Homo sapiens: one gene and its partners. The protein of the gene in region 1 interacts with the protein of each later gene in a pairwise test. Each region holds a gene or a part of one and is shown in the gene's direction. Other genes may lie near its edges.

The links.
Region 2: the proteins of ARL6IP6 (region 1) and ARL6 interact in a two-hybrid assay, tested with the Homo sapiens proteins (one study listed by BioGRID).
Region 3: the proteins of ARL6IP6 (region 1) and CLRN2 interact in binary tests that used the Homo sapiens proteins (3 or more experiments, as listed by UniProt).
Region 4: the proteins of ARL6IP6 (region 1) and RUSF1 interact in binary tests that used the Homo sapiens proteins (3 or more experiments, as listed by UniProt).

Annotation. Positions count from the first base shown.
Region 1 is NC_000002.12:152,728,607-152,735,633, forward strand, and holds part of ARL6IP6 (ADP-ribosylation factor-like protein 6-interacting protein 6), read left to right. Parts: intron 1-3,924; exon of another isoform or gene 3,925-3,974; intron 3,975-6,387; coding exon 6,388-6,520; intron 6,521-7,027.
Region 2 is NC_000003.12:97,781,735-97,788,761, forward strand, and holds part of ARL6 (ADP-ribosylation factor-like protein 6), read left to right. Parts: intron 1-3,220; coding exon 3,221-3,315; intron 3,316-6,255; coding exon 6,256-6,385; intron 6,386-7,027. UniProt on the Homo sapiens protein: Involved in membrane protein trafficking at the base of the ciliary organelle. Mediates recruitment onto plasma membrane of the BBSome complex which would constitute a coat complex required for sorting of specific membrane proteins to the primary cilia.
Region 3 is NC_000004.12:17,510,439-17,518,187, forward strand, and holds the start of CLRN2 (clarin-2), read left to right. Parts: upstream 1-4,726; 5' UTR 4,727-4,828; coding exon 4,829-5,081; intron 5,082-7,749. Other genes in the region: QDPR (dihydropteridine reductase), read right to left, coding at 1,512-1,616. UniProt on the Homo sapiens protein: Plays a key role to hearing function. Required for normal organization and maintenance of the stereocilia bundle and for mechano-electrical transduction.
Region 4 is NC_000016.10:31,498,392-31,505,418, reverse strand, and holds part of RUSF1 (RUS family member 1), read left to right. Parts: intron 1-4,687; coding exon 4,688-4,733; intron 4,734-5,893; coding exon 5,894-5,926; intron 5,927-6,011; coding exon 6,012-6,117; intron 6,118-7,027.

The DNA of each region.
Region 1 (7,027 bases):
TGGCTTATTTTGAAAAATAAGCCAAAACAAATATACCCTTAGATAGGTGTCTATAATATTCCAGCAAAGGGATTGGGATAGGAAATTCCTACCCATCCCTGTTTTTGCTTTGGATGAAAACAGTCTTAAGAGGTTTCAATTGATGGAAAAGATTAGTATACATCATTTCATTGGCCAGACGTGGTGGCGTCTGACTGAAATCCCAGAACTTTGAGAGCCCCAGGCAGGCGGATCATGAGGTCAAGAGATCAAGACCAGCCTGGCCAACATGGTGAAACCTCGTCTCTACTAAAAGTACAGAAATTAGCTGAATGTGGTGGTGCACACCTGTAGTCCAGCTACTCTGGAGGCTGAGGCAGGAGAACTGCTTGAACCTGGGAGGCGGAGGTTGCAGTGAGCCGAGATTGCGCCACTGCACTCAGCCTGGCAACACAGCAAGATTCCTTCTCAAAAAAAAAAAAAAAAATTAATATACATCACTTTGGCTGGGCACAGTTGCTCACGCCTGTAATCCCAGAACTTTGGGAGGCTGAGGCGGGTGGAACATGAAGTCAGGAGTTCAAGACCAGCCTAGTCAAGATGGTGAAACCCTGTGTCTACTAAAAATACAAGAATTAGCTGGGTGTGGTGGCAGGCGCCTGTAATCCCAGCTACTTGGGAGGCTGTGCCAGAGAATTGCTTGAACCTGGGAGGTGGAGGTTGCCTGGGTGGCAGAGCCAGACTTTGTCTGTGTGTGTGTGTGTGTGTGTGTGTGTACACACATATATGCACACACATCATTTCATCAACTGATGAATATTGAGCTGTAGAGAAGAACGAAGGATGTGTGTATTTATTTAAAAGCCTGCAACCTTTGGTAGCAGTTATTCTGGAAATTTGTAACATCTATGTCCTTGTACAACTGTACCCTTAAATACAAGAATGTTCCTTGGAGCATTGTTTGTAATAGAGAAAAGCTAGAATTAAAAAAAAACACACACACAACAGAACTGTGGCTGTGGGTGCTGATAGGAAAGGTCTCCAGAATATGTGAAAAAAGCAAAATGCAGAACCATTTTTCTGGTGAGAATCTCACTTGTGGAAAATAAGCTGAGAAGATATATATACGTTTTATATATAACTAGCTTTATATATGTACCTGTATTACCTAGATATGTATATAATTTTTGGAAAGATGCACACCAGACTCTTAGCTGATCACTTTTAGGAATGAAATTGGCAAACTGAGGAAGGAAGAATTTCATTTAATATGCTTTCATTTTTATATTCTTTTTAAAGTTGTTAATTCTTTCTAAGGGCTTATAAAACATCAAAATTTTAGCATGAGGATTCTGCAGGTACTGACTTGTAAAAAATTTAGTTGTTGGGGAGTTACCATTTTCTGTGGCTTTTCTGCTTATTTGCAAATGAATTAGGTAATTTCCCGAATCATAAACACTTCTAGACCACAATATTGCAATGTACTTTTTTTACCCCTATCATTGTGACCTGACTTACCCATGATGCAGCTTCTGATTAGTTTAAAATGAACATAAAATAATAAAAATGCTCAATGCGAAGTAAGTACTTAGATTGTGGAATAGTAATTTTGGAAAAACTCAAGAATATTCTTGTATTAAATTTGACAGGTACCCTATTAAAGCACTCAAGTGAAAAAGTTCAACAGGCTTTAGAAAGCCTCACATTTGATTATTTTTATGTTACTTTGTGTCTTTCCTCACTTATCTAGAAGTTTCATCGTTCTATAGCAGTCCCCAAACACTTTATTTTTCTTAACTATCATCTTTGTTCTGGAGAAGTATGTTAAACTTTGAGTAAACTTGTCAATTATTTTCTCCCCTCTTTAGACATAGTCATCTAAATAATAGCAAATAACAGCTATTTGGCAGTATAGCAACCCCTAAGTTGTAGTTGTAGACTAAATCTTATAATTTTTTTTTTTTACCCTCTATCCTGATAGATTGGTAGGAAGGTTATTCTAAGGTTCTGTTCACCCAATTCCAGGTTGGGTTGAGGTGCTAGAGGTGGATACTGTGCCAGGATATTGGGGTGAAGGTGCAGACTAATCCTCAAGACATTTGCTATAGTGAGTATTGAAGTATCTTTTATTGTGGTCAGGATGGTGTTTCAGATGTGGCAACTTCCAGCCACATGACCATGTGGTGTTTCTATGCCAGGCTTAGGGCAGAGGCATCTGCAGGCTTGGCTCTGTACTTACCTACCAAGATACTGTACACAGCTATACTCCCTGTGTGGTTTTGCATGGGCTTTTCTAGATGCTTTTGTCAGGAAGCCCCAGTAGCACTACTCCCTTTCCCCATTTACACACATAAGTGCAAACATGCATACAACCTACTTTATTTAAACTAAGGAAATCTTTCTCACTTGTCGATAAGCCCCTCACTCTCTCCCTGTTCCACACAAACATTTTATCTGTACTCCAATCAACTCATTGTCTTTGCTGTGCATTCAAGACATATTGTGTTTATCCACACTCCTATCCCTGATTATATCTGTACACTGGTTTCTGTAAATATTGTGCAATGTAAAGTAGAAAAACAGGCTATTTCTTCTTTCTGCTTTGCCACATCCCTCTTCTGGAGAAATGAACACAGAGCCCATTAGCTCTTTAACAGGTGGGAGATGGGAGGAGGGAACTATCAGGAGATATAATTTACCACACTTTCTATTAATAATTCTTCTGAGTCTGTACTTTAACAGTTTTTTCAGTCTGTTACTGAGCTTCACAAGATTTACAAACAGTCCATTGCATGTACTTTTTACCTGCTTCTTGCTAAAATAAGACTGGTGGATAATTTGTATAGTCAGGAAATTTGATAATTCGTAAGTCATCTGCTAGGGTTCTCAACTCTTCCTGTATTCTTGAGGCATGGAACACACTCTCAGAAACCTGTTTTAAAGACGCAGTTTAAAAATGAGTCCACAAAGATTCTGATACGACCTCCTTGCTGCTCCTCTGTTCAAAAAGTACTACCTGACTGAATTTTTTTATTTTTTACAAATTTACTTAGTTCTATTTTGAATAGGTAGAATAGTCATATGGGTCAAAATTCAAAAAGTGTAAAAGAGTATAGACTGAAAAGGCTTACTCTTTTCTCCCAACCACTCTTTCCTCCCTCCTCAGAGAACCAATGTTAAATTCTTACATCCTTCCAGAAATTTTTTAAAATATCTAAGTACAATATACATTTCTTCATATATACAACATATGTATATATGTATGTGTATAATACATATTTTCCCCTTATTTATACAAATGCATAGAGCTGTTCTGAACTTTCAGTTTTTCAGCTCACCAGTATATTTTCAGGATCTTTCCATATCAGTACCTAAAGAGCTTCCTCATTCATTTTTATAGCTGCATAGTATTCTATTGTATGGATGTACTTAATTAACCAATCCTTTACCTTCATTACTGATAATTTAGGTTGTTTTCAATCTATGTTATTATGAACAAAGCTACAGAGAACAATCTTGTATATACATCATTTTATACAGGTTTGTATAATATACAAAGGTATATATATATAAAATTGTATATTATAATATACAGAGATATATTGTCCTAAAGACATATAAAGTTACTGGAGTAAAGAACATATATGTGCATCATTTTAACAGATACTGCCAAACTGCTCTCCATAGAAATTAAAACAATTTACTCTCCAAAACAGCCATGCATGAAGAGTTTCTGTTTATTCACAGCCTCAGCATCAGAGAATGTTATCCAACTTTTTGATTTTTGTCAGTTGATGAAAAAATGATACCTAATTTCTCTGATTATTAATGGTATTGAATTGAGCATCTGTTCATGTTTTAACATTTGTAGTTTTTATTCTGCAATTGCATTTAACTTTATATTTGGATTTTGGATTGCTGGTCTTTTTTTTTATTGGCTTCTAGGAATTATCTGTATTAGCAGGAAATTTTCCCTTATGCTGTAAGTTGCAAAGGTATGTTTTATTTAAAAATTTTTTGTCATTCAATTTGACATTTTATTTTGCTATGCATATATAGTAATATGTGTGTTTACCTATATACAGTTGTCCCTCAGTATCCATGAGGAATTGGTTCCAGGACCCCCTCTGGATACCAAAATCTGGATCCTCAAGTCCTTTATATGAAATTGGATAGTATTTGTATATGACCTATGCACATCCTCCCATTTACTCTCTCTAATACCTAATATAATGTAAATGTTATGTAAATAGTTGTTATACTGTATTGGTTTTGATTGGCATTATTTTTATTGTTGTATTGTTACTTTTTTTTTTTCCAAATATTTTTCATCCAAGGTTGGTTGAATTCCAGATACGGAACTTGTGGATAGGAAGGGCTGACTGTATATAGTTGAAATTCTGTGTCTTATATGAGTCTTGAATTTTTGTATCATGGTTAGAAAGGTCTTTATCTCTCCAAGGCTATAAATGACTTTTCCAGTTTTTCCAATGATTGCTTCTACAACTTTATATTTAGATTATTTGGTACGTTTTAGAATTTAGTCTGGTATAGGGTATCTGGTATGGATCTAACTTCTTTTCCTTTTTGTAAGTGGTCACCCCATTGAATTAGTAACATTTTTTATTAATCTATTTGGGCCTTCTTCCGAATCTTGTGTTCTGCTTCGTTCTGTTGTTTGTTTGTTTGTTTGTTTTTGAGAAAGAGTCTCACTCTGTCACCCAGGCTGGAGTGCAGTGGTGCTGTCTTTGCTCACTGTAACCTATGCCTCTGGATTCAAGTGATTCTCCTGCCTCAGTCTCCCAAGTAGCTGGGATTACAGTCATGCACCACCATGCCCAGCTAATTTTTGTATTTTTAGTAGAGGTGGTTTCACCGTGTTGGCCAGATTGGTCTCAAACTCTTGGCCTCAAGTAATCCTCTTGCTTCAGCCTCCCAAAGTGCTGGGATTACTGGCATGAGCCACCACGCCCGGCCCTGTCGTCTATTTGTATATCAGTACACACCGTTTTAGGTATTCAGTTCCTATACTATTTCAATATTTGGTTGGACTAGTCTCTATTTTTGCTTATTATTTCATGTCAATTTTAGAATTAACTATTATTCTTCCAAGAAAAATATGCTTACATTTTCCATCTGAATTCTGATGTTACCTCCTTAAAGTGGTAACATCTTATTTATTCAAAATAGTTATCACAATATATAGTTATCTTGTTAATTTACTTACATGTTTTATTATCTTCCTATCCCACTAGAATTACTTCATGAAGACAGCAATCTTTTTTATTTTGCTCATCCCTATATCCCCATTACCTAGCACAATAACCAACACATAGTAGCCCCTCAATATAGATTGAGTGGGTGAATAAGTGAGTTAATTTATAAAATTTTTGAAAACTTGACATCAAAATAAAGCTGTACTTCTTACTAAAGGGAGTTGACCACTTAAATATCAGTATTTCCTGTCTTCCTATAACCACAAGAAGAAGTCATTATCCTTTTATTATTATTAATGGGTTATGAATAGTATCCAAAAACCTTTAAATTAGCTTACTCCTTTCTTTTCCCTTTATGCCTCCTATTCTTCTCAACCGTTTTTCCTTAAGTCCATTATAATATTGTTCTTTTGACTTGACTTCTGTGAGAAAATACAGTTCCAAACTCAGTGCGAATAAAATCTAAGGTCCCACACATTTGTAAATCAGGAGTCAACTTTTGTTCATATACTGAGCAAGGTTAAAGAATCAGAATAGGTTTATAATGTTCATAAGAAAACTGTAAAGAGGGGATACCCCCAAATTGAGGCAAGTTTCAAAAGTGCATGGCGTGGAATGAAAGGAATCACTTAGTACTAAATAATAAAGATAGCAAGGTATGATTTATGAAATTAAATGAAAAATCTGATGAACTTTTTTTCTTTTTCGAAGCGGGGTTTCACTCTGTCTCCCAGGCTGGAGTGCAGTGGTGCAATCTAGGCACACTGCAACCTCAAACTCCTGGCCCCAAACCATCCTCCCACCTCAGTCTCCCAAAACACTGTGATTGCAGGCATGAGCCACCTTGTCTGGCCTCAAGACATCTTAAGAGTCTTGTGAAATGTTTTGACCATGTTTTCTGTAGTTGAATTTTATAAAACTGAAGATGTTATGTTCTTGTTGAATTTACCCTTTTTTCCCACGTATTATCATTTAATTAAAATATTCAATGATATGACTTCTAGTTGTGCTTTAGTAATGTACACTTATTTCTACATAAGTTAGCTTGCAATAAGTTCAAATCTCTTAAAATATCAGATCCATATAATTTAGAAGATGAGAAATATACATGATCTGAACATGAGAGTACTGGTTTAATTTAAATTGTTTTGGTGTTAATAATGTACTTTTTCCCCTCTCTTTTCCTGTTAAGGATTCTGGACTCTACTTATAATATCCCTAACTGCTGGATTCTCCTGTTGCAGCTTTTCTTGGACAGTGACTTACTTTGATTCTTTTGAACCAGGAATGTTTCCTCCTACTCCTCTTTCACCTGCCAGGTTCAAGTAAGTATTCCTGTTTCCTGTTTCTTTTTTAAATGCATTTCAACTCTTGAAAATACTAAAATACTCAGAAGCAAGAGGCTGATCGTGAGGTATGTTGAGGTTTCAGTCTTTATAAAGCACTAATAACAGGACTTTTCAGCTTGTAGGCTCAGCCTTTAGATACATGAGAATAATATTTAAAATTCTATATCTAGATAATGCTTTTTTTTCTAAAAACTGAAATTCAGGGGCTTATTTCACAAGTAAGAACCTTTGATGGCTATTTGTCCTTTTGGAATAGAATTTGATTTAAAACAGTTTATAAAGGCAAAATTAATACCAACAATTTGAAAGTTTTACTAGGTTCACACATGGTCAGACTTACAAGAACATAATAATTGGATTGGACTTTTCCTTAGGATTTTAACTTTGTGTAATAATTAGCAAACATTTATGGTACCCAATTTATATGTCTAGACCAGATTGGATGCTTTTCGTAGTGGAACAGTATTAAATTTCTTTGGTCTA
Region 2 (7,027 bases), on another chromosome or scaffold:
ATTCATTAGCTTCTAATATTGTTAGGACTTCATTTAAGAGCAATGTATTTCACTTTTAGAGTCTGAAACTTAAAAACACTATCTCTTAACTAAACTCTCTTTTGTCATTATGAACTGCTGCCTTGAAATGGTATGTGATATTTACCAGATAAGATTTAGATTTAGATTAACTCTTTCCTAATAATGTGAGACCAAACATTAAATGGTATATATTTGGGATATGAACCAGAGGAAATTTATTCAAATTTTTTTTTCAATGAGTCCTTCAATAAATTGAAGGCCTATTTAAATCGTAGGTCCAGAAGACTTCTGAGAGAGAGGGAAAAGAGAGTGCTTCAGATTCGAGGGTTAGTTTGGAAAAGGAAAAGTGGCATGTTTGTGGTATTCTGCATTAAATTCCTTGGGGAGATGCATTTTATGTGTTTCTTATTTGTTTGTGTGTTTAGGAAACCTGAGTTTTCAGTACAGGATTTTTTAAATTCCTCCTCCAATTAGTTGATAAATAATTCCTTTTAAAAATGTATTTAGCTACTTTAAAAATACTTTAATTTTAATTACAAAAATATATATAGAGAGAAAATAGTAGGAAAGTAAACTTTGTTTTTATTTGATTTTAACTCCTTTTTTCTTTGTACTGTTTTTGGATGAAATTTATGAATTCTAGAATAGAGTGGTTACATTGTAGATTGAATGGAGAATATGATTACTATTGAAAAATCAACAATAAAAGTAAATTTACTTTCCCTATTTTCGTACTTTTCTAACTGTGAAACAAAACAAGTACATTTTGATCTATTAGACTGAAAAAGGTTACAAAGATTAATAAAGTATGCTCTTGTCAAAGTGAGCCACTCCTGTGAGAATGTAATATCTTTTTCAGGGTAATTTATTGATATCTGTTAAAATGAAAAATGTTTATAAACTCCAGCAAGCATTTTTACTTTTAGAAAAGTATTCTATGACCAGGGCTTATGGGCAAAAAAATATACATAGAAGGTTGTATGTTAGCATTATTTATAACATTTTTATATCAATTATGTAAAAATGTTACTATAAATATTTATCTTTGCTATATATATAACCATAGTAGTAAAAAAAAAAAATCAAGGAAATTTACATTTGCTATAAATATGTACTTACTATGTATAGAAAGAAGAAAGTTCTTAGTGGATTATGCACCAAACCATTAGTAGCATTTATTTTTGGAATAGTAGGATTATAAGGGAAGTTTACTTTCTTTTATTTTTCTTTTCTTTTTTTTTTCACATCCTGTTTGGTGAAGAGAGACATTTACTTTCTCATCTATATGATGCCATAATGTTAAATATTATATAATTTTTACATACTATTTTTACAATATAAAAAGGTAATAGCATGCAAAAATATAAGGAGTACACATTTTTTAAATTTGGAAAATATAGAAGAGAATATTGAAAACATGTTTCCCATAAATCTCACTATTCATAAATTCACCATTGTCAATCTTTTTGGTATCTTTCTCCTCCTTTTGAAATATATAACATATACTTTATATAACTAAGGAAAAAGGAACCATCTAAATTATGTACCATGTATAATTTTGTATCTTGCTTTTTTCAGTTAACATGTGGTAAGGGTAAATCAGGAAAAACATGCAATGAATATAACTAACAGCTGCCTAATATTTTTTCACACAGCTTTGCCAAAATTTCTTTAACCATTTCTCTACTCTAGGACATGAAGGCTATTCTGTTTTTGAAAATTGTAAACAGTCCTTCAGTCAAAATCTTGTATAAATCTTAGCCCCAGTTCGTGATTCCTTAGAATGAATTTCAGAAATAAAATCACTGGCTCAAAGTGATTGAACGTTTTTATAGATCTTGATAGGTACTTTGATTGTTCTGGTTTCTATATGTACTGGTAATGTATGTCTGTGATAATCAGCATTATCCTTTTTTAATGATAGGAGAAAATGGTATATAAAAAGTTTTATTTTGTATATCATTTGATTATTAATCACATTGCAGTTTAAATACTTAATTTATGATTAAGTGATTCGCAAAAAAAAGTACAGATGTCCAATAAATATATGAAAAGATATTGAACCTCATTGGCAATTAATGAACTAGATCAAGATAATATGCTGTTAGAATGGCAATTATTGAAAAGAATGATGATAATGATAATAGCCAGTGCTGGCAAAGGAGTGAGAAAAGTACTGAGTCATGTAAATTGATATGGCATTTCTGGAGGACAGTTTGGAAATGTTTTTCTAAAACTTTAAATTATGTATGTAGTCTTAGAAATGTTACTCCTAACATTTCTAATAAATCTTAAAGCATCAGAACTTTTTTAAAAGAAAGGTATGTAGGAGGATATTTGCCTTAAAGTTTTTCATAATGATGAAAATTGGAAATAACCTAAAAGTCCAGCAACAAATGTTTGATACAGTATTTGATGACACATCCATGCAGTGCAATAGTTTAGAACCATTAAAAGAAGATAGTGCAGAGGAATAATCAATAATTTTTCAAGTGCCTATGTGATCCATGGGTGAATCCTTAACTAGTTCAATCACTGGCTATCAGCTTTTAAAAAATCAAATAGAATAAAATAAAAGCTATTTGTAAGTATTTTTTCAGAAGACTTTCACTTAAAATACATCTATATATACCTATGTGTCTACTGTATCTTAATACAAAATGTATTTCTCACTATGGTTTATGGTAAAAATAATTTATAAAAGTAGTAGTAAAACCATAGTAGTAAAAAAAAAAAAAATCAAGGAAATTTACATATGTATTGCAAAGGCAAGGTGTAATACAGGATTCCATTTTAAATACATATATAGTTTATTCATATGTAATATACACAAAGTGTAGCTTTATACCAAAATATTAATAATTATTGCATCGGTGTAATAGGGTTATGGTATTTTAACTCATTTTCTCATATTCTGATATTTTAATGAAAAAATTACTCATTTTTTAAAATTATGAAGTAGCAAGTCATTAAATTTACTTTATTATCCAAATGAAAAGGTATTTTACATGAAATATGACTAATGATTAATATATTTATCAGTCATATAAACTAATAAGAAACAACACCAAAAATTCTAATGATATATGGACATAGGACATAAGGAGATAATACTTAGGTTAGGAAATGCCCATGGATAATAAACATGGAAAAATTTATAAGTAAAGCTTTAATTTTTCTTTTTCTTTACATTACACAGAGAAGGCCAAGCTATTATTTTTGTCATTGATAGTAGTGATAGATTAAGAATGGTTGTGGCCAAAGAAGAACTCGATACTCTTCTGAATCATCCAGGTATGTGTGTGTCTTTCAGTCTGTATCTGTTCTTTGGGGTTCATTTATGTGTAATGTTTTGTTCTTTGGGTATTGCTTATACTATGTAATTATCTTTCATTTAAAATTTTTGAATTTAAAACATATATGTTATACAAAATTTATATTTTATGTACATCACCATATTTTGTAAATTTTGCATGCAATGTAAATGTAAAGCATTTTGCATTGTTTTTGGGGTGTCTAACATTTATTTCCTCAAAAATAAAAATTCCCTTTTTTCTGATTACATAAATTGTACCAAAGCAAAAAAAAAAAAAAAATCAGATGGAAAAATAAAATAAAGATCTGTGTATTTCAACACCCATTAAAATTATTTGTTACCATATTTTCATGCATTTCTCTATGTGTATCTGAGTTTGTGTGTGTTTAATTACAGCATTTCTTACATATTTATTCATATATATATATATATATATCTCCCAAAAATATCTGTAGGGTTGAGGACTGTGGGGACTATCATTGTTATTTACCAAAATGGAATCATATTCTTTACACTCTTCTGCATGTTTCTATTCTCAGTTAACACTTAATGATGGATATCCTTCCAAATCAAATTATATATAATTATGTAGTTATTCTTTTTAATGATGCCTAATATGGTTTACTATGAATGTACCACAGTTTATTTAATCATTCACCTGTTGATGTATACTTTCCTCCCGCCCAAGCCCCCACTACAAACAGTGCTCCAGTAAGTATTGTGGAACTCTGCATTTCTAGCCTTCCTCATGCCAAAAAAATTTAAATAGTGCTTGTGCTAGGACTTTCAGAAAAGGATGGTGGTTTAAGAGAACTGTGGATTTGTTAGAAATGAAATAGAAATAGTGTGGGGCTTTCTAATAAATGTTACTGCTTAACCACAATATCTTTGGTATTTTTAACAGATGACCTCAAGCTTACTGAAATTTTTGAAAAAAAATTATCCGCCCTGTACATTTTATTTGACTTTTTAATGTTAAAAACTTAGCAGTCTTGGCTGGGCGTGGTGGCTCAGGCCTGTAATCCCAGCACTTTGGGAGGGATTACAGGCGGGTGGATCACTTGAGGTCAGGAGTTCGAGACCAGCCTGGCCAACATGGTGAAACCCCATCTCTACTAAAAATACAGAAATTAGCCAGGCACGTGCACTTGTAATCCCATATGCTCAGGAGGCTGAAGCAGGAGAATTGCCTGAACCTGGAAGGTGGAGGTTGCAGTGAACTGAGATAGCACCACTGAGGGCAACGGAGGAGACTCTGTCTCAAAAAAAAAAACAAAAAACTTAGCAGTCTTGTATCTAGATTGATAATGCATTTTTGATTATGTCTTCCTTTCATATTAATCTTTCCAGTTTTTCTCTAAAAAGTGTTTCAGTGTTGAGCAGTAAAATGAAATAGTTCCTATAAAATATACTTCAAACAATGGGGATTTTGATTTCCTCAACTGAAGCCTTGTCTATGGATCTTAATGTACTACTTCCTTTATTTTATGGGATAGATTCCCAAGGGAGGGATTTCTCAGCTGAAGTGTATATGAACTTTTTAAAAAAATTGATGGCCATAAAAAATCTTTGAATAGCAAAATGTACTGTGAACAGATAAAGACAATGACAGGCAAGGGAAAATATTTGCAACTCATATCATAGCTACAGGGATATTTCTATACTACTTGTGTTTCTAAAAATCAGTAAGAATATAAAAGCTTAATAGAAAATGGGGAAAGGACATATCAGGTAAGTCAACAAAAACATAAATTTAAACATCTTTTGAATATATGGAAAGATTCTTGGCCTTTCTATTACCTATGATATGGAAAATATCAAGAAGTTTCATAGCAGTCTTTTGGCTAGGGGAGTGGAAACACTCATTCTTATACGTGGTTGTTGAAGTGTAAATTGATATAATTTTTAAGAGAAAGCAGTTTGGTAATCACTGTCTATCAAAAGAGAAATTTATGTCCTTTGACCCAACAATTCCACATCTTAAATTTATCCTAAGGACATACTGGCCGGTGTACAAAATTACCTATATACACATTTATTCATTACAGGATTGTTCATAGTTGTAAAGATTGGTAACAGGTATCTCAGTTGGGTTCTGGTTAAATAATAGTACATAGTACTAAAAGAAGAAATATTCCAGAACGGTTAAAATAATGAAGAAGCTGCTCTATATGTACTGATATGGGATCAGATCCAAGATATGTAAATAAATGAAAAGATAAAGGTATAAAGTAATGAGGTTGGCCTGCTATATGAAAATAATATATAATAATTATGTTTGCAAATACATAAAATATTTCTATGAAGATGCCAAGACACTGATGTTATGGGTTGCCTTTTCTACAGAGACCATTGTCCTAGGACAAAGTTAGGAAGGAGATTCTTTTACTGTATGCCATTTTGTATCTTCTGAATTTTGAACTATTTAAATGTATTGTCTATTCAAAAAAATGAAAAATGTTTCCAAAATCATGACAAGGTAAAAATATCTTTTAAAAATCTAGCTTGTTACTTATGATATTGTGACAAAAAACTTAAATAAGTTCCCAGTTTCTTTTCCTTCTACTTCTACTTGAAGTTTGCCTCCTTTCTGTTCACCATTAAAAAGGAAACAAAATATTTAATGCTTTTTTGTAGGTACTTCTCTGTAATGCTTATTGAGCTCCAGTCCCACCTCACCCATCTTTGGTTAAAGCTCCTAACCAGAGGGCAGATGGTCCTAGGAAGTATTTTTAAAATTTTGTTACTGCTCAAATACATGCCTAACAGTGTGACAGTATGTGTCTTTAAATGTTTCTGTGTGTGTGATATGAAAAAAGATAATTGAAAAAAAATTTCATGGGTTTCAGTACTAAAGATTTGCTGCAAAATGACCTAAAAAGCTGGAAGTGTGATGATAATCTTATTTTCTCTTTTAGATATTAAACACCGTCGAATTCCAATCTTATTCTTTGCAAATAAAATGGATCTTAGAGATGCAGTGACATCTGTAAAAGTGTCTCAGTTGCTGTGTTTAGAGAACATCAAAGATAAACCCTGGCATATTTGGTAAAGTTTTATATTTACTTTTCACTGTAGCTTTCTGAAAAATATACAAGCTTCAGAGTTGTTTCTTCTGATCTCATTTTTTAAAAATAAGTGATCAAACATGGTGGCATATAAGCTAAGGATTTTGTTTTGTAGAATTGTGGCATTGTAGGTTTTTACAAATATATTACTGTTAAAAACCTTTTTCAAATTTTTGGGGGGATAGGAAAATATAAACAACTCTTATAATGGAATAACTTAAAAGCTCACTTACTTACTGACTTCAGCTACACTGATTTCCTTCTGCACATGGAGTCAGCCAAGCACAGTCCCATCTAAGAGCATGTGCACTTGTATCCCCCTCCTTTGAATCATTTTCCAAAATAATTTTCCTGGCTTGCTAGAGTCACTATTACCATGTGACTGCTTTTTTTTTTGTTTATAGTCTGTCTGCCTATACAGGTGTGTTAGCTCCCTGACAGCTGGGGTTTTGTCAGTTTTCTTCACTTTAATAATCCCTACAATAGTCATAGTGCCTGGTATGTAATAGGTACACAATACATATTTGTTAAAATGAATAAATGGAAATGGAAATTTTAAGTTTACTTAGACATCCTAATAAGGTTGAACTCTTAAGTAATTAATGTTGAAATTGTTATGCAT
Region 3 (7,749 bases), on another chromosome or scaffold:
CAGAGATAATTATCTCTACCTTAAGCTGTAAACACAGCATCTATTCATCAACATTTGTTATATTATTAATTAACTTGTTATCCCATGGGGGATACTGAAACAATGAAAAGTCTCCATCATCCTAGCCCTCCCTAAGATGGCAGGAAGAAGCTCGGAGGGGAAAGACCAAGAGCCAGAGGTAAATCAGCTCTCCAGATTCTGCCAAGACCAAGGTAAACCAAAGTGCCACCACCAGGAGAAAGCACAGCCTTCACCCTCTAACACATGACGCTAACAGGATCTACTGCCTTAAAGATATTGGGGGCATTAAGAGTCTATGGGAACTCTGGTACTGGGAACACAGTGCCTGGCCCTTGGCAGAAGTGCTGCCTCTGTCACCACCATGCATCTCTGAAGACCTGGGAAAGCGCCCTCATCAGTGTCCCCAAGCACTGAGCAGATGGGTGGCAGGAAGGGAGTGGTGTGACTGAATTCTTCAGAAGCATATTCCTGTACCAGATTCTGAGCAACAAGAAAACCTTGGTAAATGTACACTATTTGGGTGATGGTTACACTAAAAGCCCAGACTTCACCACTACACAACATATCCATGTAACTAAACTGTACTTTTGCCCCCTTCATCTATAAAAATTAGATAGTTTTTTTTTAAAGAAAATCCTGAAAGCCTTTTTCTGGTCCCAGGGGAACTCTTGCCCAGGCTGCTGTGCTGCTGCTGCTAACTAAGCTCCCAGAACGCTGCCGCTGGCAGTGTCTCCACCGGGAAATTGCTGAGGCCTGCTGAGCGGCTGAGGTCAAGGGTCTTTGGCCATGTATCAGCTCTGCTCCGACTTGCCGCCTCCTGGAAATTGACACCTGACTATGCAAAGTAGTTGAAATAGTCTTTGCAGAGCAAAGAAGCCGTCAGCGTTTTTCCGTGCTGAGCCTTCAAACTGTCAGATCCAATGGGGCTAAAAGAACAGGGGTGGGTAGTAATAGTAACATTAATAGACAGCATTTAAACAGTTTTTACCAGGCGTCAGGTAATTTATGTGCAACGACACCAATTATCTCATCTAATCGTCCCAACTCTCACTGTCAGAATCTCCGTTGTACAAATGGGGAAACCGAGGTCCTACGGCGTTAGGTAATCAATACGCGGTCTCATGACTAGTAACCGGGACTGGGCTGTCTCATTCTAGAGCCTTCCTTCTACACTCTCTCTCCGTCCTCTCACCCCTGCTCCCGTTCCTCCCCTTTGGAATTCTCTCCCGAGTCACGCCGGACTTTTTGGGTCTGGCGGAGGCCCACGGAGCACCTCCTTGCACAGCAAAGGCCCAGCGCCCTGGGACTGGCGTGCGCACGCACTCGGAAACAGGAATAGACGCGTAGACCTGTGCGCGCACGTGCAAGCAACACGAGTCAGGGGGTGCACAGGGGCCCCCACCTTCCTCTAGACTGCCCCCCGCCGGGTTCCACACGAAAGCCCCCGGCCACCCCCGCGGAGACCCAGCAGCCCCAGCCCGCAGCATTACCCAGTTGCGGGCCCGAAAAGCCTGCACGCATCGAGAACCCAGAGCGCCCCTGCCGCCGTACACCAGCACCCGGCGCGCCTCGCCTGCAGCCGCCGCCGCCGCCATCCTGCTCCTGCCAGCCCGGCTCCCGCAGCTCCGAATGCCTCGAGCCGGAGCGCCGCGCCCCGCCCCGGCCGGCCAACCCCGCCAAGAGGGAACGCGCGGCGGCCGCGCCCCGCTCCGCGCCCGCTGCTGCCGCCTAGCGCGCTGCCACGCTCGGGGCGCCCCGCCACCCGGAGGGACTGTAACTTCGGCCAGGCCCTGCCCCTGGGACGGGGACATCGGCGAAGCCCCTCCTCCCACCCGCCAGCAAGTGCTGGGCCTCGGGGCGTGCAGCGAGCCGGGCTAAGGGCGAGGAGGGTGGAGAGCGGGTGTTTTACGAGCATTAATTTGTGAAGTGTAAGCATGTAAAATATAGTATAGTACAATTTTCGACCACTGTTTTGGCAATTTTTTATTTTTAATTGTGCATCAAAATAGAGATTTAAGTATTCCCACCTGCCAAAAAAACAGAAGAGGTCGCTCCGCTCAAGGAGCTGAAAGTCCACCGCCGAGACGAGACAAACCACACTAGGTCTTATTTCTTCTATCTAACCGTAAATTTATACCCATTAATCCAAATGGCCCTTTTACTATATGCCACCCATCGCCAGACACAGATCCTGGCATTTTCTCCCTTGTATATTAGTTATTTCTGCCCATGGCCTGTATCTTTAACACAGAGCCTCTCATCTACAGCACTACTGACATTTTGGGCCAGATAATTATTTGTGACAGGTGCTGCCCTGGGTACTGTAGGATATTTACAGCATCCCTGGCCTGCATATACTAGAAATCAATAGCAAACCCCTACCCCTCACTCATAAGAATCAAAAATATCTCCAGATTTAACAGTTGTCTCCTAGGGGCAAATTCATCACTGATAGAGAACCAGAGCTCTAACACTCTCATAACCTTCTTGATAGCAGAACCCTGTATTACATACATCTTTGTGTCACTTCCCATCCACATATAACCTTGTACACAGCAGACACAGATGTTTGTTCAGTAAACTTGTGCCAGGTAAAGCATGCAGAAATATGTCACTAGAGAAGAGGATGCAGCCAGCAGCACATTTTGTTGTCAGAAGCTTCATTATCAGAAATAGAACTGCTAGGAGGCTGGATGGAGAGGAGAGCACCATCTATTTAGTGCTCCTTATATCCAAGGCACTGCGCTAAGTGATCTGCCTGTGCTATTTCACTTTACTCCACACGATAATCCTATGCAGATTAGAAAGCTGAGGCATGAGAGTCACAGACACTTGTCTGGAAGAGTGGGAATTTGAACACAGGTCTTCAATAGCTAGAGTTCCACTTAACCACACCTTTGTTCAGCAAGACAAAGGCTTGTTGGGAATCAAGTGTTTCCCTTAGAGTTTTTCTGAAAACAATTGCTTAACCCTCAAAACACCAAAAGTTGACACAGGTCCCTCACTGACGGCAGAAATATGACTCAATGATATTTACGCAAGTCCTGACTTGTCAAAGCATGCTTAATGTTAAAATAAGAACGTGAACTAACATTATTGATCACTTAATGTGCCAAGCAGTCTTCTGAGCCTTTTATATGTATTCTGTTATTTTTTACCAGAAAAACATTTGCTGTTTCAAAGTCACTGGGATGAAGATGAGCTGTTGTAATTCAAAGACCTGAATTTCAGCCCCAGCACTGACATCCAGTTTTTCATGAGAGAAATGGCTGAAATCGTGCATCTCCTGTTTACCTTAAAGGGTTGCTGGAGCATCAGAGGTGAGCAAGCATATGGTCAAAGCATTTTGCATTTTGTACATGGTAAAGTGCCACTCATCTGTATATATAGTAAGAGACAGGATCTCACTCTGTTACTCAGAGTGGCATGATCATAGCTCACTACAGCCTTGAGCTCCTGGGCTGGAGCAGTCTTCCAGCCTCAGCCTCCAGTAGCTGGGACTACAAATACACGCCATCAGGCCCAACTATTTTTTTTTTTTATTTTTTGTAGAGATAAGGTCTCACTACATTGCCCAGGCTCAGAAATTCTCATTTTTATTTTCATTGTGGAGTGGCCACTGAAGTGAGCCCCAGTTGCGAGGAAGGAAACTGACATTTCCATTAATGTGTCCCTCTGCTTCCTTGACACTCTCCAAGTGAGATTCCTGGGACCCCTATTGGTTAACAGTGCAACTTCCTGAACCCCCCTTCAGGCTTCTGTGACCAACTAAGAAATTTTACTGCTCCACTTTTGCCCAACTTTGCTCCCCAGAGATATGGATAGAGTGACTGTTGCCAGTCTCACATGATGTTAAGTTGATATTCAGGAATAAGGTAAAAGTCAAAATGTCAAAGTCCACAGTATAAGATAGAAAGGAAAGAATATTTCATTCCTAGTATCTACAGATTAAAAGGAAAGCCTAGATCTTCCACTATTAGAAGAGATGAATACCCCAGCAGTGTGGCTACTATTTGCTAATACACTAGAAAAACACTTTTCTCTCCCATTTCAGATAACGTAGAAGGAGGGACGGGTGAGAGCAATGTTAAGTGTTGGATTCCAGGCTACCCCAACAGCCACAAAGTAATTCTAGTCACAGTTTACCCCCAGCAGATTCACACAGTGAGAAATTCATAAGGCCCTATTTACACATTTCAATATTAAAGCCCCAAGAACCGGGGTCATTTGATGGTATTAATAACAGTCCTAAAGATTCTGACAGCAGTGACATTTCAGAGAAAGAAATGCCAGGGCACCCATGCATCAGCGAGATCGACATTTGATACTGCGCATTGTTGGCAATATTCAAGTGCTAATCATTCTGTTTTTGTTTTCCTTCTAACACATGCATTTTTTGAGATTGGTTTGCGTCTCTTAATCTTCAGAGCTACCTGATTTTGCTTATTACTAACTCCTTTATCATTACGAGGTCCACACCAGGGCTATTTAAATACTTGAAACGAGGAACAGTTAAACAGTCTGCTGAAACATTAGTCTAGGAGGAGATATAAGGTTACTTCCTTCAGTAACACACTCCGCTACATAGTCAGGTGAAGATTGTCTCTGTAGAGGCTTCTGGATGTGGTTGTAGGAAGCATGGACTGTGCAAGCTTGCGCTGAAGGAGGACGAGAGGATGGACCTACAACCTTGAAACAGAGTGTTTGGAAGAGCTGACCTTGGAGCAGAGCATTGCCGAGTATCTGAAAGATGTCAATGACCCTCGCTGCTGCTCGGAGACCTTGGGGATGACCTGCACCCACTAGCATGCCTGGATGGTTCAAAAAGGCGTGGTATGGGCTGGCGTCTTTACTCAGCTTCTCCTCCTTCATCCTGATCATCGTTGCCCTGGTAGTGCCCCACTGGCTGAGTGGGAAAATCCTTTGTCAGACTGGAGTGGATCTGGTCAACGCCACAGACAGAGAGCTGGTCAAGTTCATTGGGGACATTTACTACGGGCTCTTCCGAGGGTGTAAAGTGCGGCAGTGTGGGCTTGGGGGCCGCCAATCCCAATTCACGAGTGAGTATATTGGGAGCATGAAAGCTGATTCTAGGCACTCATTTTTGTTAATGTGTAAGAGTGCTTATGTCTCATTGTGGAATTTGGCTGCTGCCTCAACGTCAGGCATAATGTCAAAGTCCACAGTGAGCCAAGGGTTCTGGATCCACATCAAAAAGATCTTTCCTTCCTTCCTTGCTTCCTTTTCTTTTTCTGTAGAGATGTATAGAAACATTAGAAATAAGGATTTGTGCATTTTTGCAGTTTACCTCTATTAATTATGACTATTAAAATATTGAGAGTTTACACGTGTCAGACATTGTAAGCACCTCACGCCACTTGTCTCCTTAAAGCCTTACAACAAAGTTATACAGAAGGAATTGTTAATGTTCCCATTTTCCAGAGGAGTACACTGAGGCTTGGAGAGGTTACATAACTTACCTGAGGTCACCCAGCCAGGAAACAGTAGAGCCGGACTCCAGACCCATGCCACATGACCACAACAAGTGGGTGGAGGCTGCCTGCAGAACTGAACCTTTGGGAAGCATGATGACCCTTTCCACATCTACTTTTGTAAAAGCTTCATAGTCTGAGAAAATGCAAAGGGGCACTGTGCTTGGGTTCTGGAATCAGACTACCCTGGCTGAAACCCCTACTGGAAAGTTTACTGGTGGGGAGACCTCAAGCAAGGCACTTGCCTGTTCTCTGTGAACGTGAGCGGGCACCGACTTTGGCTGGCATTCAGTGTAGCATCAGAGCTGCCCAGGATGTAAGCAGAGCAGTCTGCACAAACAGGAATCCAAGCTGGACTTAGGAACGGGCTTCTGGAAAGGAAAAAACAAAACAGGCAATATTCTGCAAGCCTTTTGAATCGATGAGATCACTGGTGAAAAGTGTCTGCACAAAACCGTAATTAATCAATACCATGCCAATGTAGGGTGATACAGAATTGTATTCATTCCTTGATTTCTATATTTCAGTATTGTAGTAGTTTATAGAAATCTGGCCAAGGTAAATGTCGTATTAAATTTATAAGGACAAAAAGCTGGAACCGTTGACAAATATAATACAAATTGTCATCATTTAAACACACAAAAATTTACATTTGTTATGTATATTCAAGATCAATATGTCTGGGCATATTTATATTTACCTAGCAATTAGATTAGACCCTGGATATTGAACAAATAGCTCCATCAAAATTATAACATAAAACTTGAAAACACACACACATAAACAAATAAAAAAAAGAAATGCTAAAAGCTAACCATGACAACTACATGGACTACTCGATTCTGAACTAGATGCTTTGCTATAAAGGATGTCTTCGGGACTTTAGGGGTCAAGAAAACTTCCCCTTTGCACTCTGAAGGTTCTCTAAACAATCTACTGACAAAAGGCAGATTAATAGGGAAAATGGCTTACACATTTATTAGCATGCATAGGGGAAAAATCACAGAGTGATTGTCCGCTATCTCAATGGGGTACAGGTGGTTGTATCCTCTTCATCTTAGGGGAAAGAGAGATGGGGAAGTGTGGATGATTTTAGGGGACTAGTAAATTATTTTTAGGGAAATTCAATGGGCTTAAAGAACATACAGTGAGCTGGGACAAAGTCTGTTGAGCCCACAGAGCAGACATTGGTTTGTGACAAAAGTCTGTCCAGCTGTGTTAACAGACTTTAGTCTTTCTTCCTGTGATATGGGTACAATTAATGAACACTCAGGGAAGGGACCAGAGGTCTTTTTCTTTGGTAGGTCTGGATGTAGGCAGGTAAGGGAATGTCAGAGAACAACCTCATCCTGTGCTTATGAGACAGACAAAGAATGGAGAGACACGAGGGAGAGGGGAGGCCAGAGAGACCTTGAGACTTCTTCACAAAGCTTCATATTTTAGGGGTGTTGGTTTCTGAACCCCAACAGGTAAATCGTTGAAACTTGAATGGGGTGAGAAGATTAAACAGCAGTCACATGCCAGCATTAACCTAATGACCAGACCCCTGCCATTCCCAGCTCACAGAAATGTAAACTGCTTCGAGTAGGAAGCTGCAAACAAATGCATATTTTGTTTGAGCCTTGGAGGAACTCAGTAAGTACTTCTTGCCTTCCTCCTTCTTCCTTCTTAGAAGGACACCAATGGGAAACATTCCCCTGGGTTCATCTAACGTGGTCTGGTCTGGAAAGCATCAGAACCCTGTGAGAAGCATAAAGGACATTTTATTCTTGTCCCTGAGTAGGAGCGTATTTGAGAAGGTTTTGTTTCCTGCTGCCCTGGGGTTGTCTCAGAGGAGGGTCTGTAAACATCCATTCGCAGTACCTTGGATGTGATTCTCTTTCAAAGCATTCACGAGGAGCCTGGGGCCAGGTTCCTCCTGTGCTTGGCTGGCTTTACCCCAGTACAGCTCAGGGACACTGATAGTGCCAGTCTAGTCTCCTTTAGATTTACAGCTTTTAATTCTAGCACAGTGTAACCTCGAGGCAGCTACGGGGTATATCAGAGCCTCCCACAACCAGGAGTCTGTTTCTCCTGGGGTCTCTTTCTGCCATTCACTATCCATCTGTAGAAAAAAAAAAAAATAATCCCCACAGTCGCAGATCAGTGTAGATGGGGACGTAAGTGAAAATGCTTTGCAAACTCTGGGATGGGGAGGTTTATTGGGTCTCGTTCACAAACAGCCACTTTTCTCATC
Region 4 (7,027 bases), on another chromosome or scaffold:
ACTCAGCATGCGGAGGACCAGCACCAGCACTGGTCTCTGAATTCCCTCAGTATTGATTACTATTTTCACTATCTCGGCAAGGGGAATGCGGCAGGAGAACAGGGTGATAGTGGGGAGAAGGTCAGCAGGAAAACATGCGAGCAAAGGAATCTGTCACAAATAAGTTCAAGGGAAGGTACTGTGCCCGGATGTGCACGTAGGCCAGACTTATGCTTCTCTCCACCCAGACATCTCAGTGTAGCAGAGTAGCAGAGCAGCATTGCCGCCAGCATATCTCTCCTAATCCTCCTCAGCACAGACCCTTTACAGGTGTCGGGCTGGGGAACAGTCAGGTCTTTTCCTTCCCACGAGGCCACATCTCAGGCTGTCTCAGTAGGGGGAAGCCTTGGACAGTATCCAGGCTTTCTTGGGCAGAGGTCCCTGTGGCTTTCCACAGTGCATTGTGCCCCTGGTTAATCGAGAATGGAGAATGGCAATGACTTTTATGAAGCATACTGCCTGTAAACATATTGTTAACAAGACACATCCTGCACCGCCCTAGATCTCTTAAACCTTGATTCCATACAGCACATTTCTGTGAGCATAGGGTTGGCGCTAAAGTTACAGATTAACAGCATCTCAAGGCAAAACAATTTTCTTAGTACAGATCAAAATGGAGTTTCTTATGTCCTCCTCTTCTACATAGACACAGTAACAGTCTGATCTCTTTCTTTTCCCTACAAGAACAGTTTGTGCTATTTCACCATCGGCTGTTTCTACTGGTGGCATCGTGTCTGCACTCCCAAAAGCTGCAGGTTTTGGAGCATTTCAGATTTTAGGTTTTTGGATTAGGAATGCTTAACCTTGGCCGGGCATGGTGGCTCATCCCTGTAATCCCAGCACTTTGGGATGGGGGGCCAAGGTCGGCAGATCAGTTGAGGTCAGATGCTCAAGACCAGCCTAGCCAACATGGTAAAACGCCATCTGTACTAAAAATACAAAGATTAGCCAGGCATGGTGGCACGTGCCTGGAATCCCAGCTACTCAGGAAGCAGCGGCAGGAAAATCACTTGAACCCAGGAAGTGGAGGTTGCACTGAACCGAGATAGTGCCACTGCACTCCAGCCTGGGCAGCAGAGCAGTATCCTGTCTGAAACAAAAAAGGAACGCTAAACCTTTAGCTCAGACAAGTTATTAAGAAAAATCAAGATCACTTTAAGATATGAAAAAAAAAAAGAAAGGCCAGGTGCCGTGGCTCACGCCTATAATCCCAGCACATTGGGAGGCAGAGGCAGGTGGATCACTTGGGGTCAGGAGTTGGACACCACCCTGGCCAATATGGTTTAACCCCGTCTCTAACAAAAAACTCAAAAATTGGCCAGGCGTGGTGGCAGGCACCTGTAGTCCAGCCTGGATGACAGACTGAGACCCTGTCTCAAAGAAAAAGGATGAAAAATCTACTTAAAAGGCTTGTTATTGGCCAGGTGCGGTGGCTCACGCCTATGATCCCAGCACTTTGGGAGGCTGAGGCAGGCGGATAACCTGAGGTCAGGAGTTCGAGACCAGCCTGACCAACATGGAGAAACCCCCTCTCTACTAATAATACAAAATTAGCCAGGCATGGTTGTGTGCACCTGTAATCCCAGCTACACAGGAGGCTGAGGTAGGAGAATCACTTGAACCTAGTAGGCGGAGGTTGTGGTGAGCCGAGATTGCGCCATTGCACTCCAGCCTGGGCAACGAGTGAAACTCCATCTAAAAAAATAAATAAATAAAGGCTTGTTATTGATAGTAAAAGAAGCTCTCAATTAGGATTTTACAAGCTCATTTTCATCAAACATGGGAAATTTCTGTGCAGAGCTTCATCTGAGAAACTTACTTGGGATTTTTTGATGTGATCATTTTCAGTTACCTGTCTCAGTGGAACGTGATGCCAGTTGTCATGAGTAGCAATAGTAATAAAACTTGTTGCTAATATTTTGGCAACCTACCTTAAGCCACACATTTTGTATGGTTACATGTAATATGTGTCTTGATCTCTGCAGCAGCCATATTAGTTAGCTGCCATTATTCATTTTTTAGATGGAAAAACAGAGACAAAAGTGTGTTTAAGTAACTTGTCCAAGGTCACTTAGGGCCATGATTTTGACCTAGGCAGACTTATTCCTGTGTTCTACTCTTAACTACCACACTCTTTTGCCAGCTAAGAATGTCAAGTGGAGCCAAGTACAATTTGTGGTCAGCTGATTCCTTATTAGGACTCAGATGTTTCTAGATCTTACAGCTTGGCCAGTTGTAAATGAAGAGGAAAAAAAAGCAAGTGGGAGTTTTCTATTCTAGTGGACAGTAGTGACTCAGATGCTAGGGAGTATATATATCATTTGTCCTGTAAATGCCTCTGATGATCCATGGAAAGGTAGAATAGGCTCCCTTTCTGTCAGGTGGCCCAAGGAGGACATACACCTGAGTGGATACAAGTGTGTAGCTAAAGGGAAGAAAAATAGAGTCTGAGCTGGGCACAGTGGCTCACGCCTATAATCCCAACACTTCGGAAGGCCGAGGCGGGTGGATCACCTGAGGTCAGGAGTTTGATACTGGCCTGGCCAACATGGTGAAACCCCATCTCTACTAAAAATACAAAAGTTAGCCAGGTGTGGTGGCTGGCACAATGATGATTTTGCCGAGAATATAATGTACTTGAAGGGAAGAGGTTAAAGTGAGGGATGGGAGGCCTGTAAATCCACCTTGTTGGGTGTTACTTCCAGAGTCAGGACAGAAATGGAGAAACAAAGCAGGCCAGATGGCAGTAGCTTGGACCCATGCTTTCCTTCAGTGAGGTAGCCCCAGCTGATGCTGGCCGTGAGAGAGGGCAGCCCCAGTGTGGCCATATCTTCAGGTTCTTCCAGAGAAGCTGGAAATCCATATTTTCTTGTAAAATACCTCAATTTTATTCACCGATTTAATGGGAGCCTTAGTGAAGGGGAATGATCCCTCCCAAAGTCTCAGGATCATTGTGAAGATGAAAAAGCACAGGTATTTCAGGTGTGCACTGGAGCGCTTACTGATTTCCCTCAAGTCCAGGGTGGGCAAGCATGACTCAGTGCCCAAGAAGGCTCTGGAAAGGGGAGAATGCATCTGCTCTCAGTGGAGAATGGGAGGGCTGGCCCGTGTCATTGCATTTATGTTTCGTGGGAAGCTCCCAGCCCTCATTCCCATAACGTAGTGTCCTTTCTCCTACATCCCCACCTCAGGGTCAGTGCCCTCAAGCTCAGACAAGTCCAAATCCTCTCCCCATGGTATCTGTCCTCTCCCATGTCCACTGTATGAGTCCCTCCCAGGTGTCTCGTTCTAAAATATTTCTGCCAGGCTTAATGGGTGCTGCTCTCTGTATAATGGATGGTCCAGATTGACAAACTTTTTCTGTAAAGGGCCAGATCTTAATGCTTTGCAGGCTTTATAATCTTAGTTGCAGCAACTCAGTTCTGTCATTGTCTTGCAAAAACAGCTATAGACAATCTGTAAACAAATAGGCATGGCTGCATTCCAGTAATACTTTATTTCCAAAACCAGGGAGTAGAAACAGTTTAGTGATTCCTGGTCTAAATCAGTGTTTTCTATACTGATTGTTATCTGCTCTTTGGCTGGATTTTGACCCTGGGATCATCTTGGTCACTGTGGTCATGAAGTACCTGGCAGAGAGAGTTAGGTAGCCAGAAAGCATTTGTTGTGCAAACGAAGGTCCCACTGATTCCAGAGACTTCTCTTACTCTGCCCAGCCTAAGGAGGCCTGTCCCTCTGCCGTGCAACCCCAGCTGCAGTTCAAATCTTTTTTTTTTTTTTTTTCCTGAGACTGGGTCTTGCTCTGTCATCCAGGCTGGAGTGCAGTGACATGATCATAGCTCACTGCAGCATTGATCCTGAGTTCAAGCCATCCTTCCGCCTCAGCCTCCCAAGTAGCTGGGACTACAGGCATGCCACCATGCCTGGCTAATTTCTTTCCTACTTTTTGTAGAGATGGGGTCTTGCTGTGTTGCCCAGGCTGGTCTTGAACTCCTGGCCTCAAGCAGTCCCTGGGCCCAAACCCCCTGTAATCCCAAAGTGCTGGGATTATAGGCCTGAGCCACCATACCCAGCCTAAATCCTTTTATTTATTTATCCCATAATAGCCATCTGTGAGCCAACTGCCCAGCCTAAGAGCTAGAACAGGTTAGCAATAACCTTTGAATTTCCACTTAAGATTTCCTGCTTTTTTGAATAGTTTTACCAAATAGGTAAATATTCCTAAGTGCTATATTGTTTAGTTTTAATTTTAGAGCTTTGCAAACTGTGCTGTATGTGGTCTTCATGAGTTATTTTCATGCAAGAGTTTAATAGTATTCATCTATGAATGAATGCCTCTGGGTGAATATACTAGAATTTATGTATTCTGTCAGTCAACATTTGCATTATTCCCAGGTTTTTTGCTGTTATGAACAATTCTGCAAAGAACATTTCTTGTCCATGTCTCCTAGGGGACATATTGAGGAACTGCTATTTGTAGGCACTTCTGACCCCATTATGTAGCTATGACTATCCACAACTTCTAGTACCAGACCGAGTTCCCAAAGGCAGTGACTCAGTGAATTGGCCAGTTCAGTGCCAGGGTCTGCCAGGCCCCACAGCTCCCACACCTCTTCCTTGCTCCTTACCTGTGCCTTCTTTCCCCCAGATTCAACTGGCATGCTGGGCCGCATCGTCTTTGCCTGGTGGAAAGGGTGAGTTTGTCTTCCCGGCCAGCAACTCTGGCAACTCTTCCCAGTAGTGGTAGTAATGATAGTAATAGTATTGCCATTAATTGTGGCTGTAAGGGTTCCATGAGATGATCTATGCAAAGTGCTTAATGCCCGTGGCATCGTACATAATGGCTCAGTAAACACTAGCTACCATTAACAGCTGTAACTGTGCCCCCTGAGCCTCTGTATGTTGTCTCTAATCCTTACAGCAACTCTGTAGGATGGGATTGGATGTGTACATTTCATAAATGTGAAATATACCTGCATGAGGGAAGTTACCTGCCCAAACCACACAGCTTATAACTAGCGAGATGGGATTTGAACCTGAAGCCTGTGCTTTCCATGGTATTGGGCAGTTCACTGGGCAGAACCCTCAACCAGGCCATGTGTTCAGGATCTCGTTATGTGTGTCTGATACCTCTCCCAAGAATATTCCCATTCCCTCCAGGAGATCTCATACTGAGACTCGGGCCTAATGCTGCAAATCCTGAGCTGGGCTGGGGCTGCAGTATCTCCTGCCACTGGGACCCTAGAGAAGTTGTTTCCAAGTGTTTGTGCACAGGGCAGGGAGTCACTGTCTGACGAAAAGGGCAGGTGAGGTAGCCGTCCACGGTGTTGTGTAACAGAAGTACCCTAGGCCTGGATGTCGGAGCCCGGCTCTCTTAGCCTTTTCCCCAACTCTGCGTGTGATCCAGGGAAATCATATCCCCTGTGAGGGCTAGTTGTCTGTAACATGCAGGGTTACACACTCAATGTGATGTTTACTAGTCCAAAACATGCTCACTGGGTACCCTCACTCTAAAGCAAGAAGAAGAACGGAGAGAGGCAGAGGAACTCAGGAAGAGCCTCCCTCCAAGGACAGACAGAGGCTGGGGAGCAGCCACAAGACAATCAGGGTTTTTCCTTGGTAAATCATGAGTTCATAAGCGGGAGACACTAGGTGATCAGTCAGTCACTGAAGGTTCTCCCAGCTAATGGTGGCATTTTAGGTAGCAGTGACCGGCTGTGGGGACAGATGTCTGTCTGGGGGTGTGGGTTTTCCTGAGCTCTTCAGACTTTACTGTGGTCCAAGACTCCCCACACTGCCCATAGGATGTGTTTCTCCTTAAGTCCAAATTACAACAACCTCTCCTCCCCAACAGGAGCAAACTGGACTGCAATGCCAAGCAGTGGAGGTGAGGAGGGGCGGGGACGGGGGAGGGGAGTCTTCCATTATGAAAGTCTCCTACCTCTGACCTCTAACCTCTGATCCCTCCCCAGGCTTTTTGCGGACATCCTCAATGACGTAGCCATGTTCCTTGAGATTATGGCTCCTGTATACCCAATCTGTTTCACCATGACCGTCTCCACCAGCAACCTAGCCAAGGTAGCTGCCTGTGGGGGCACCCATCTGCCTAAAACACCTGCCTTGGTAGTGTGTGAGTTTACCTGGGCTCTGTGAGTTTACCTGCCACTTCAAGAAGAATAAGAAAGTTCAGATGTTTCTACTCGAACCCAACCATCCTTTCTGACCCTCCTCCAGCCAGACAGCATCTAGTGCCCCAGAAAGTGTAAGGCAATGTCTAGAGCCACAGGACTGGGGAGGGAGCTCCGAGCTGAGAACTAGAAGGGGTTGTCCAATGTTGACATTTTGGGACCAGCTTCCTTGACTTCCCTTTGGTTCTTTCAGTACAGTATTTATTGAGTGCCTACTGCATATTTGGCACAGAATGTGGGCCCCCGTCTTTGAAAGGAAACCACACATAATTGCACCAGTGTTTGTGGAATTATAGGTACAGGTATTCTAAATGAGAAATGTTGGGGCCTGCAAGAGGCTGAGGCGGGGATTCCAGCCTGGTCAGGGAGTGTAGGAAGAGCTCCCCTGAGCCTGGGTCCTGAAGATGGAGTTTAAGGTGCAGGGCGGGTGTTCCGGGCAAAAGAAACAGCACAGCTTAAGGTCTGGAGGCGAGGTGGAGATGGAGCACAGACCGCACAGTGAGCTGGGGGACACGCGGGGCTCAAGCACACTCTTCCTCCACGCCAAGCTGTTGCCTGCACAACCCTTGCAGGTTGATCTCACCCAAATGAGGACACTGAGGCCTGGCATGGTTCAGTAAAGAGCATATCCTGTCAGAGTTAAGTCCCTGGCCCAGAGGAGAAACTCAAGAAAATGGAAAACCCATTCCAAGGCCCATGTGTCAACTTAAAATCACGTTAGGGCCGTGTTTCTCCATAAGTACTAGCATTTGGGGTGCAACGGTTCCTTGTGGTAGAGGACATTTAGCTTCCTTGGTTGC